Linked DNA regions of Homo sapiens. The protein of the gene in region 2 purifies or fractionates together with the protein of the main gene of each other region. This does not show direct contact. Each region holds a gene or a part of one and is shown on either strand. Other genes may lie near its edges.

Region 1 (7,389 bases), 170 kb from region 2:
AAGTGCATGCCATTATCATCTTTCACCTGGCGCACTGCAACCCCTCCTAACCAGGCTCTAACTCTCCATTCTATCCCCTTTCTACGTTCAGTTTTCCAACAGCAGCCAGAGTGACCCTTTAGAAATATAAACCAGATCGCCCTCTCCCCTGGCTCAAAACTATCTGATGAATCCCCTAACATTTTAAGTTAAAAATCCAAAATCCTTACCTTCAGCCCCAAAGGCCTGTCTTCTGGGTACCTTCCCGAGTTCCTAGCACCTCTCTCCATTGCTCACTGCCCTCCCCACCACACTGGCTTCCTTAAAGCTTCTGGGCCTCAAAATGTCAGCTCTTGGGGACTTTGCACCTATGCTTCCCTCTAGGACACTTTCCGCCCAGAAATCCACTTGGCTAGAGATGTCACCTCACTTGAGGTTTTTCCAGACATCCTATTTTAAATGGTGGTTCTGTCACTGTCTGTCACTTATTCTTCTTCCTAGCAGGTATGACTGGCAGACATTTTATTATATATCTATTGTTTACTAATATTGTCTGTTTCTCTCTCTAGAAGGTGCCGTCCCTGGAAGCCGAGTCTGCCATGTTCCTGGCTGCCTCCCCAGCTCCTATAACAGTGCCTGGAACACAGTAGGCAGTGGATATCTATTGTTGAATGAATCTTGTCATCATTCAAGTTTCAGGCCAAACATCACCTCCTCAGTCAAGTTGTCTCTGATTTCTGGTTAGAAGTAGCACCAGGCCAGGTGCAGTAATTCATGACTGTAATCCCAGCACTTTGGGAGGCCAAGGCGGGCAGATCGCTTGAGCCCAGGAATTTGAGAACAGCCTGGGCAACATAGTGAGACTCTGTTTCTACAAAAAAAAAAAAAATTGGCTGGGTGTAGTGGCGCCTATAGTCCTAGCTACTCAGGAGACTGAGGTGAGAGGATCCCTTGAGCCCAGGAGGTCAACTCTGCAGTGAGCCATGATTGTGCCACTGTACTCCAGCCTGGGCGATAAAGTGAGACTCTGTCTTGGGGGGAAAAAAAGAAGTAACACCACCCCCATCTTCCCCTTGCTTGCCCTGGCGCTGTTTCTCTCCAAATAAATAAAATGGTTTTATTTATTTTGTTTACTTGCCTACTGTCTTTCTGTGCATGACCTGGCCCCCAGTATAAGCTGCCTGAGAGCAGGGGCCTTGTCTGTTATATTCATCTCTGTGTCCAGTGCCTAAAACAGTGCCTGGCTCCCATGTACGTGCCCAGCACATGGGTGTTGGATCAATAATACATGAGGCTGGTGACTGGAGAGGAGGCGCAGGCACAGCCAGCTCCTTCTTTCAATACTCACCTTTTGGAGACAGGAATCCACAGCATTAGGAATATGTCCTTCATGTTGATGCATATCACCAGACGGTGTTTCTGCTTGTGATTGTGTCAGTGAAGAAATTTGAGGTCTCGTGTTCTTCTTTATTGAATTTTCAGTGGGTACCAGGAAAATGGGCACAGGTTTTTCGTCAACAAGTATTTGGTGCTCTCCTTTTTTCAACACTCTCTCCTTAGCTTCAGTGGAGACATTAAACACACACATATACACACATAAAAATGGGAGAGATTTCAAGTAATCCTCTCATTCCTGTGTCTGTACTCTGCCCCAGCACCTCCCAGTAAGGCTGCTCCCTGCATCCTGGAATGGTGGGTTGGCGATGGAGAAAGTCGGGGAGCTATTAAGAGCTCTAAAGTGTGCGGATTAAGTTTTACTATAGAAGTGAAAGCTTAATGACAATGGAACATTGTCCACCGATTAAACATCATGTTTCTAAAACTGTCTCCAGTCTCCCCTTTCCTTCTTCCTTCTTTCCCTCCCTCCCTCCCTTCCTTCCTTCTTTTTTTTTTTTTTTTTTTTTTTAGACGGAGTCTCACTCTGTCACCCAGGCTGGAGTGCAATGGTAGGACCTCGTCTCACTGCAACCTCTCTGCCTCCCGAGTTCCAGCGATTCTCCTGCCTCAGCCTCCAGAGTAGCTTGGATTACAGGTGCGCACCACCATGCCCGGGTAATTTTTGTATTATTAGTAGAGACGGAATTTCCCCATGTTGGCCAGGCTGGTCTCGAACTCCTGGCCTCAGGTGATCCACCAACCTCGGCCTCCAAAGTGCTAGGATTACAGGCGTGAGCCACCGCACCCGGCCCAGTCTCCCATTTCAATACTCATTATACAGGTAAGTGACAACAGCAGGAATCAAAAGTGCAGACTCCGAATTTTGTAAATATACATGTGTTTGCTGGCATTCATAAAAAAAGGCAGGAAGGAAATACACCAAATGGTCACATTGTTTATCTTCAGGTTGTTTTCTTTTTTACTCTTTTATTTCTATAGTGAGCATATATCACTTTTGTAATCCTCAAAAACACAAAATGGAACATCCTTTTGTTCATGGATGGAACAATGGAACCATTATTTAAAACATAAAAGTGGAATCCCTGAATGACAAGGACAGCAGCTGGCAGGCATCTGGGGGAAGGAAGATGACAGCTGAGAAATTAAGTTAGAATGAGGATATGGAAAGCATCCACACTAAGGCGCCGTCAGCCAGACCCGCACCAGGCACATGTGAGGCCCCATCCTCCACCGAGTGTTCACTGTCTCAGTGAGTCTCTTGGCAGTAGGGCCCCGTCCCTGTCCGCCACCGCACAGTGACATACTTTCTCCCGCCCTCTCCCCTAGGTCAGCTGGAACTGGGTCCGCCTGGAAACCCGGGGGCCGGGCCCCCAGAGGGCTTTCGCAGCCTGGCCGCCCGAAGCTCACCTGCCCTTTCACTGAACTCCACCCGGAAGGTGCCCGGGGCTTCGTGTTCCTGGGTGCTGACCGTGCACTCCCCGCCGCCCGAGGACTTAGAGCTCTGGAAGTAGCTCTCCAGCTTCCTTCGTACTCGGGGGCCGGACTTGTACACCCGCACGAGGAGCGGGGACGGCGGGCGCAGGTGGGAGGCCATGGCTCTGCGCGTCGGGAGGGCGCGGGGGCTCCGGGAGGCAGCTGGGCGGTAAAGGCGCGGCCCGCCCTGCGGACTGGGCGCAAAGTTTCAGTTTCGCTTCCCTGGAGGTCCCTCCCTGTTCCCGGCAGAGCCGCTTCCCCCTCCTCCCTGTGCTGTCTGCACCGAGGAGAGCGGCCTGCCGGGTGAGTAGGTCCGGTGCCTCTGGGCCCTCGGGGTCCCCTCTCCTGCAGGCTCGAGGTGGGCGGGGAGAAGGGGGACGGGCGCGGACCCGGGTCCCAGGGCCAGGCCTCCCTTGTGAGTAGACTATGCAAAGAAAGTAAGTTTCTCCTGTGTTTCTTATTCTTTGTAACTCTTACTGCTGTTACCACTATTATTTGATCCTAAAAAGTAATTCACATTCTGAATCCATGTTAAACTTACCCATTTTTGAAAATTTGAATGTGTTCATCTGGTAATTGTGACCTGTTACCCCTTCCCTCCCTCCAACTCTACCCTTTAGACGGGCTTCTGCGGGCTTTTCTCCTCCATTGCTTGATTTAACCAACAGCACTGAATTGTTTCTTGCTGCCCAAAGAGCAGAGCAAGGCCCTGATGTCAAGGGCTGGTGAGGGGAGGCGGACCTGTGAACCAAGGAGCAAAACTTCTCCAAGGCCTCCAAGGGGAAGTTTCAAGCAGAATCTTAATAAATTGAGTGTGGCGGCGAGATGGGGAGGACAGGATTGGGGGGAAAAGCACCTGAGGCTTAGGGACCACTGTGGTCTGAAGCACAGAGTGGGCCTGGGGCCTGGGAGGAGAGGAGATGGGTGAGGGGATGAAGGAGGGAGAGCCTACCTAGATGGGCACTGTCCAGCAGAAATACAATGGGAGCCAGTAGGTTCATTCTAAAATTTTTGCAGCCATATTTTTTAAAGGATAAAGAAACAGATGAAATTAATTTTAATGATTTTTAGGAAATTTTTAAAGGATAAAGAAACAGATGAAATTAACTGTAATGATGTTATTTAGCTTGACATATCCAAAACTTAATCATTTCAGCATGTAATGAGATTTTTACATTCTTTTTATCATACCACGTCTTTGCAACCCAGTGTTTTTCTTATACTTACATCACATCTCGATTCAGACTGGCCACATGTAGCCTCAGTAGCTATGTGAGGCTGATAGTCCACCCTGGACAGGACATATTTAGATGGTGAAAAGCCTTGAAGAGCAGTGAAGATGACCTGAAGGGCTTTAAGCAGGGAAAGCAAGAAAATGACTTGCCAGATTTGCATTTTAGAAATATGGTGCTGACAACCGTGTGGAGGACACATTTACAAGCAGGGATGAGTGGCGGCAGAGAGGCCTGAGATAAGGTTTTTGCACATGGCTGGTAAGACTGGAAATGGGCCCGTCTTTACTGTGAACAATTTGGCAATACTGTCAGAATTACAACTGCATATACTTTTTGGTTCTGGAGTTCCATTTCTAGGAATTTGTCCCATTGATATATTAGCCCCTGTGTGAAGTGACCTGTGTACAAAGATGTTCTTTACAGCCTTGTTTACAATAGCAAAAGATAGGGAACTCTTTAATGCCCATAAATAGGGGGACTAGCAGTTTAATAATAATAGTATATCTATACAATGGAATACAATGGGCAGTAGGAAAAATGAAAAAGCTCTCTATGTGCTAACATGAAAAGATCTCTAGGATACATTATGTGGGAAAAATAAGATGCAGAAGTGTGTGTATAAGCTACTACCTTTCGTGTAAAAAATGCCACTGGAAGAATACAGGAGAAGCGCTGATTGACTCTGGACAGGGAATTTAGCAGCGGAGACAGGAGGAAACCTTTTACATTTTCTAAATTTGAACCATGTAAATGTAATACCTATTCAAACAATAAAATGTCAAACTAGGTACATTTAAATCTTTGAAAAGAGTATATTGATGGCTGGGCGCGGTGGCTCACGCCTGTAATCCCAGCACTTTGGGAGGCCAAGGCAGGCGGATCATGAGGTCAGGAGATCGAGACCATCCTGGCTAACATGGTGAAACCCCGTCTCTACTAAAAAAAATACAAAAAAAAAAAAAATTAGCCAGGCGTGGTGGTGGGCGCCTGTAGTCCCAGCTACTAGGGAGGCTGAGGCAGCAGAATGGCGTGAACCCGGGAGGCGGAGCTTCCAATGAGCCAAGATCGCGCCACAGCCTGGGCGACAGAGTAAGACTCCGTCTCAAAAAGAAAAGAAAAGAAAAGAAAAGAAAAGAAAAGAAAAGAAAAGAAAAGAGTATATTGCCACAGCTCAGGCAAAAGTTGCTGAGACTCTGAAGTGAGGCAGTGTCAGTGGGCGAGGAAGGAAGGGGCATATTTGAAAGTGATTTAGTTTGTCAGGTCCCAGATATGAGACAAAAAAGACTCAGGGAAAGTTCCTAGATTTCTGATTTGAGTACGTAAATGGTATTATCATTTACTGAGCTGTAGAATCCAGGAGATAAAGTATGGATTTGGTGGGGGTGGGATGGAGGATTGGGGACCAGGAGATAAGAGGTCTACTTTTGCAGAGGCTAATTTGAGGGGACTGTGAGACCTCCAGGTGGAGTTGAAAAATGGGGCTCAGGAGAGCCATGGCCTAGAACTGCAGATATAAGAGTCATATTTGCAATTGGTGAGTTGAAGCCATGGAAATGGATGAGATCACTCCTGGGGAGTATGCAGAATGAGATGAAAAACGCCTTAGACAGAATCCTGGGGCAAACAATTAAGAGGGAGATGGTGGAAGTGAACGCAGGGAAAAGGCCTGTAAAGGCAAAGTGAAGGGTAATAGAAGAACCAAGGGAAGATGGCATAGGAGAAGCCAGGAAAGCAGAATTTCAGGAATCAAAGAGTGAAATACTATAGAAAGTGGTCCAGTAAAGATGGATAGAAGATAATCCATTGGCATTAACCACATGAGGGATTCTGATGAGCAGTTTCTCTTCTTTTTTTTGAGACAGGGTCTCATTCCTCTTGCCCAGGCTGGAGTGCAGTGGCACAATCACAGCTCACTACAGCCTGAACTTCCCACCAAGTGATCCTCCCATCTCAGCCTCCCAAGTAGCTGGGACTATAGGCATGCACCAACATGGCCAGCTAACTTTTTGTATTTTTAGTAGAGATGAGGTCTTGCCATGTTGCCCAGGTTGGTCTCGAACTCCTGAGCTCAAGCAATCTGCCTGCCTCTGCCTCCCAAAGTGCTGTGGTTACAGGTGTGAGCCGCCATGCCTGGCCACTGGCAGTTTCAAAAGGGTGCTGGGAATGAGGCAGGGAGCCAGGTTATAGTAGGCTGAGTGGGCAGGTGGACAGAAGGAGAGTCCACTACTCATTCCAGAAGTTTGGCTGCTTATGAAGAGAAGGAAACACAGTAGGAACCAGTGATGGAAAGTTGGGAAGGCTTTTCTGTTTTTAAAATGGAAGAAATGGAATGCTTAGGGCACTATGCTCCTTGTTTGGCTATCCATAGGCCTGTAAAACTTGGCCTGAAGACAGAAACAGGTGCAACATTTAAAGCAAAAGCCCATGGCCAAAGCAGATGAAGTCATCCTTCTTTTTTGAAAACAGCAGTGCCCTCTGGAGGCAAAAAATGCATCTTGTCTTTGCATTTTAGAATGCAAAGGATTGTACTAGACCTGCTGCTTTCCCTTGATGAGTAAGAATAGTGCTCTGATGCTGTAGATGGTTGTACAAAATGTTTCTATTGCAAAGACATTAGAAATCATTTCGACCAGGCGCGGTCGCTCACGCCTGTAATCCCAGCACTTTGGGAGGCCGAGACGGGTAGATCACGAGGTCAGGAGATTGAGACCGTGCTGGCTAACACGGTGAAGCCTCATCTCTACTAAAAATACAAAAAATTAGCTGGGCGTGGTGGCGGGCGCCTGTAGTCCCAGCTACTCAGGAGGCTGAGGCAGGAGAATGGCGTGAACCCAGGAGGCGGAGCTTGCAGTGAGCCAAGATCGAGCCACTGCATTCCTGGGGGACAGAGTGAGACTCCAACTCAAAAAACAAAAAAACAAACAAAAAAACAAACAAAGAAATCATTTCGAGGCCTAAATATAGCAACAAGTGTGGGCAACTGTATCTTTAAGCATTTTCATCATCAGTCTTCTAAAAATTCATAATCTTTAATTCCTACCTATTAGATGGAAAATCATAACAAAGTATTTTTCCCAGATTTTCTGACTTTTAACCAGATATACCCCTATCATTAGGTCAAGGATGTTTATCACAAATTCAATAATACACCCCCCTCACAGGCTCTAGTGGCATTTCCTCTTTCTTCAAACGCTCTCCAGGGGGCTTCACTCACTCATAAGCTCGGTCTTCTTTACTGTTCTTTGAATGCTGTTCTCAGTCTCACCACTTTGTTATCACCCTCTTCTTCTAAATATGTAAAAAC
Region 2 (5,637 bases):
ACTTCATTTGTGTTCATGTCAATGCAGTTGCAAATTATATTTAATTTTTTTATGCAATAAAGGGCCCACAATGGCAAAAGTGCCTGAGGCCCATGAACATTTTAAGGTGGCTCTGGGTGTTAGAGATATCAGAATTATTTGAGGTGCTTGCCCAAAATGCAGATTCTTGGGAACCACTTTAGTGCTATAGAATCTGACTCCTTTGGGATGAGGCCAGAGCTTGGAGTTTCAGCAAACACCTCAGGTGATCCAAATACCAAAAAAGAGAATTTCTGACCCTAGAGTAAACGATCAAGACCTATCACAGGTGCAAAGTGGACTTGTTTCAGCCGGGGCTACTTGCTGGGGTCAATAAGCCCTTCAGATTCACTGAACTATGGCTGTATCGTGCCCCTTCCTGTAATTTTCAACCAAATATTAATACACTGAGCATCCCTTCATGCTGTCATACTTAGTTGTTTTTTAATTATTATTATCAGCAGTGGTCTGTGTTTATCATTAAGCCCCCCTGTATTTGCCCTTTAGGATAAAAATGTTTACCATTAAATGACAGTTTTCAAGTATTTTATTTGAAAAGTAGCAAAATGACAGTTGACATATTTAGATTGAGGATAACTATAACATTACTGAATGGATTATTATTCTTCAGTGCGATACACTCTGATATTCAGCCTTGCCCTGAGTTAATCAAATCACTGGAGAACAAAAGCGAATAACAGCAGGTCTCTCTTTTTTATTCCAATTTCTTACATTTATTGTCAATGATGAATTCAGATGCCAGTGGCCTGCCTAGAAAGCCACTCTTAAGCAACAAGGAGTCTGCCAATCCACTTAAAAAACAAACCACAAGAGAAAAAAATCCAAAACCTCTATGTTAATGAAGCAGCAACTGTGGCCCCCTAGCCTCCTCCACTTCAAGTACAGGTGTTCCTAGCAGATTAAGTCCCTTAATCCTCCCAGCGACCCCTAGCATCTGATGTGCTATCTGCATTGGCTCCGTGTCAGTATCAGCTCTGGCCTTGGCCTACAGAGCTTCCAATGAAGAGACTGTAATAGAAGAAGCCAGAAGGAAAAAACAAACAAGGCAACATGGGGGTATTTCAAGACTGTCGGAGGTGTTCCTGAATCGGTGGCATTAATCTAGAGGCCATGTTCTGCAGTGGGAGAGCAATGGGCTTGACATCACAGGGACCAAGATTCAGTTGCCGGCTCTGAGGGTTCCTTTCTAGGTGATCTCAGGCAAGGAAGCTTCTTGCACTCTGAGCATGTTTCCTCAAGTTTCAAATGCAGAGATAATTCTGACCTCACAGGAATTGAGACAATGTGTATGAAAGCACCTATTTTACTACCTGGCACACAATGTAGGTGCTCAATAGATGGTGTTTGAATCTTAAACTTACCTGGGGAAATTTTTAAAACTTCACCATTCAATAGATAGGAGTTAGCAAATTAGCAATATGACTGCTTACTTCCTTTGGTTTATTTATACATAAGGCTTTAAAATCATCAAACGCTAGGCTGTCAAGGAAAATATACTATTTAATAATCTTAGAGTTCATTTAATCTCAGCACAGGGGAAGGGTTTCACAATGAAGATGTGTAGCAGGCGTTATCCCATTGTTATCACTGGGCAGAACAAAGACCAATGAGTAGACACTATAAGAAGGCACATTGGCTGGTCACGGTGGCTCACACCTGTAATCCCAGCAGTTTGGGAGGCTGAGGTGGGAGTTCGAGACCAGCCTGTCGAACATGGAGAAACCTCGTCTCTACTAAAAATACAAAATTAGCTGGGTGTGTTAGCGCATGCCTGTAATCCCAGCTACTCGGGAGGCTGAGGCAGGAGAATCACTTGAACCTGGGAGGCAGTGGCTGCAGTGAGCTGAGATCGCGCCATTGCACTCCAGCCTGGGCAACAAGAGTGAAACTCCATCTCAAAAAAAAAAAAAAAAAGGCACATTTTGGTTCAGCATTAAAAAGAGCCTTCTGGCAATTGGAGCCAGGGTTGTGCTGCGCAACTCCATGGGGCAGGCAGGATTCCCCTAGACCACAGCCACATCACAGCTCCTGGACCGTGCAGAGCGCAAGTACACTGCAGTCCCAGAGCCCTGGCCAGAGCTGTCCCACATGTCACTGGCTAGTTTGTGAAGAATGAAGTTCCGTCATGGAATCTGTTCAATTTGAGGTAAAGTGATAGTGAGTCAAGAATGTTAAAGAGATAGTTCCTACTTTGGATGGGAGTCTGACTAGGCTTTTTTTCATTCTTCGTTGGTTTGTCAAACATTTATGGAGTATCCGTTGTACATCAGGCACAGACCTCATCTCAAGGGAAAAAAATTGACTAAGATACCATCCCTGCTCCCAGGGAAGACAGAAGCCCTACCCACTGGGTAATACTGTGCTCCCCACAGCACTATGGCATCCTGACATGGGGCCTGTCTCCTGCAGTGGCAGCTGTGCTTAGCTGTGCCCTCTGTCTATAAGACTGTTATTCTCTCCTTCCTGAAAATACAAACCTGTTCTTTTCCCACAGATTTGATGTCCATACTTGTGGACACACAGTTGCAACTGCATTATCTCATTTAAATTTTCCAAGTTATTTGCTCTCAAGATAATAAGTTCATTTCCATTATGAAAGGGAAGCTGAAGAAAGACTGACTTCAGCGACAAAGAATGATCCTTGGATATTAGAAAAATCTGTTAAGAGGAATTAAAAAAAAAAGCTAAAACTTGTTTTACAACTAGATATGTACAAATGGAGAATAATTTTGTGGGAAGGATACCAAAGTGTTATTTTCTAAACGTAATAAGGTACTCTGGGTATGCTTGGTAGTCATAAAATGCCACAAATAAACTTGGATGGTGCACATTATCTGTGACAGTGTCATACAGGTCAGTAGGATTTTGAGGGTTCTTTGAAGGAGGCACAATTAATGAATGATTTCCATGTGTATAGATTCCAGTAAGTACTCGCACATAATACACATGCTTTCTCCCATTTGCATCTGGTCTGGAGTACGTATCATTGGCAGAATAATTGGCATTGACAGCAAAATAGGTTCCCTTTCCATATGCCACAGCTGTGAAAAGAAAAACCATTTTTAAGCATTTCAAGTTAATGTAAAATTTGATATGTTGGCCCAATCTGTTAAATAATGTTCTTTCTAAAGCCTCTCTTAAAATTTTTTGTGTGTGCTTTTCACTTTTAATCATCAATTTTTCTACCTAGAAGGGCCAGTCAATCCCCTTTGGGATGAAATACAGTGAGTCCTACCCTGAAACTCGGGCTGCAACATGGCCACCAATGATGGGGGACCACAATGAATCCACACTGTCCCAGCCAACTCGGGCTCTCATGGCTGATGCCTCATTCCAAGCAGCCAGATTACTCGCTTCCTTACCATTCTTTCCGGCATAGCTGCGGTTAAAGCCATTTCGATTGACGTGTGGCACGGAGCCGGCATCTGTCCCATGGAAGAGTTGCTTCTCATTCATTGTCTGGCCATTCTTGGCATCCATAGTTTTTTTCTTTGCCTGGTAGCTATTCCAGAGATCTGGATTCTGGATCCTCTCAATCTGCAAATTAATAAAGGATAATATTCTGCCAGTTCCAAGAGCACTTGCCAATATACAGCAAATGAAACATGATCACTATGTTTCATAAATAAAAGCACACTAAACAGCAAATCCAATGCCAGACGGCAGCTTTCTGCATTCAGAAACCTTTTTAGATCCAGTGTTTCATAAAAACAGGCAATGGGAAGAATGTTGGTTTAATTTTTAACATCTTTTATGTACCGCATGAGATCAAACAAGGTTTAGGATTTTAAGTACTCATGACATGAATTCTGCTGACCCAGCCTCTGCAACTTCTGCTTTTTACACATACTCTAATGACTGCTCCTGTTGCTGTCCACCTCACTTTGCACTTTGCCTCTCACCACCTCAGTCCTTCTGGGATACTGGTTGACCTAGTTGTGTACTAACAGTAAGAGAAGCAACAGAATATCTAGGCAAGAATGAAATTAACTAATGAAAATTAATCTCTGGTCCAGTTGGAAGACCGGTGCATGAATCTTGAATGTTGTAGACCAAAGTGGCCATGCTTTGACCATACTCTTTAGGCAGTGGCCTCCAGGGCGGTGGTGGAAACTGCTTGGGTCCTGGGTTGCAGTTCTACTTCTAAACTCCCCTAGTCCCCAAGTAGTAGCAGTTTCATAAGGCTGTCCTGGGAAGACCGAGGGGTGGGTAAAGGTGACCAAAGTCCCTCATGGAAATGCACAAGGTAAAGGTTCCCTGTTGTCCATGTTGTCAGAATGTTTTCCGTTTTGGAGAACTCTCAGGCTTAACACCATTACCTGCCATCATCTGGTTCTTTTTTTTTTTTTTTCCAGTTTTGGGTTTTCTCTTTTTAATTAAGATACAATTCGCACTCTAATTCAAAGTCTCGGCATTAACATATATTTTGTTGATCTGGTTGATGATTTTAAAATTATTTTTCCTTTGTATTCTTTACCTACGGCTAAATTTCTAATCTTCAAAATGCCTACATTCATTTCATTTACCTTACATTTTATCTTACTCATTTTTAAAGCCTTCAACATTTTTTGAGTTTTGAAATAATTCTCAATTTCTTAGTCTCTTAATTCTTAAATTTAAAAAGGTTGTTTCTTACCTTTTAAAATTTTTAAAAATAATTATGTCAAGTAATTTTTGAATATAGTAACCTGATTCTACATTTCTCATGGGATAAATTCTAAGGTAAAAAAAATTGCAAATAAATCTTAAACTTTATTTAGTAGGTTTATTATTAGCAGCAGATGTCTAGCCAGGGTAGATTACTTTTATCAGACCAACCTCTCACCAACAACTACTAGAAGAGCTAGAGAGGGAGAAAAGTCTATTTGAAGACATCAAGGATTTGATGAGCTAAGATTGCAGAGAGAAGGGAAGTATGGTGAAACAGTAAAATCAGAAGACAATAATTTCTTCAAAGTGCTGAAAGAAAATAATTGCCATCCAAACTTCTATGCCCAGCAAAAATATCCTTCAAAGAATGAAAGAGAAAGAGACGTTTTCAGATAAATAAAAACTGAGAGAATTCATCACTACCAGATCTGCATTGGAAGAAATACTAAATCTAGATGAAAAATTATCCCACATGGAAGCATGGAAATATAGGAAGAATTGAAGGACACTGGAAATAAATGGTAAATATGTTGGTACATATAAATAAATATAAACAAATTAAAAATGTTTCATCGGGTTTCAAATATAAATAGAATTAAAATGTGTGTTAAAAGCAACACAAAAAGCAGAAGAGAGATAAATAAGGCTTAAAGTATTCAAAGGTCTTTGCATTGTCTGGGGAATGATGAATATACTAATTTACATTACAGTTCAATAAGTCAAGGATGCATGTTATAATCTCTAGGGTAAGCAATGAAAGAATTAGAATGTATAACTAACAACATAATAGGGGTGAAAATGAAATAGAAATAATGCAAAAGAAACCAGGAAAAGATAAAAAAGAACAAAGAATAGATATGATAAATAGAAAACAGAGATTAATATGGTACATTTAAACCCAAACATATCAGTAAGTACAGTAAGTAAGATTAAGTACTCTAGTTAAAA

What was found.
Region 1: the proteins of PARP14 (region 2) and DTX3L purify together in Homo sapiens (affinity purification with western blotting; 2 studies listed by BioGRID). This does not show direct contact.

The regions. Positions count from the first base shown.
Region 1 is NC_000003.12:122,560,009-122,567,397, reverse strand, and holds the start of DTX3L (E3 ubiquitin-protein ligase DTX3L), read right to left. Parts: upstream 3,061-7,389; 5' UTR 2,972-3,060; coding exon 2,785-2,971; exon of another isoform or gene 2,614-2,784; intron 1,540-2,613; coding exon 1,328-1,539; intron 1-1,327.
Region 2 is NC_000003.12:122,725,751-122,731,387, reverse strand, and holds the end of PARP14 (protein mono-ADP-ribosyltransferase PARP14), read right to left. Parts: intron 3,577-5,637; coding exon 3,402-3,576; intron 3,081-3,401; coding exon 2,791-3,080; 3' UTR 548-2,790; downstream 1-547. UniProt on the Homo sapiens protein: ADP-ribosyltransferase that mediates mono-ADP-ribosylation of glutamate residues on target proteins. In contrast to PARP1 and PARP2, it is not able to mediate poly-ADP-ribosylation.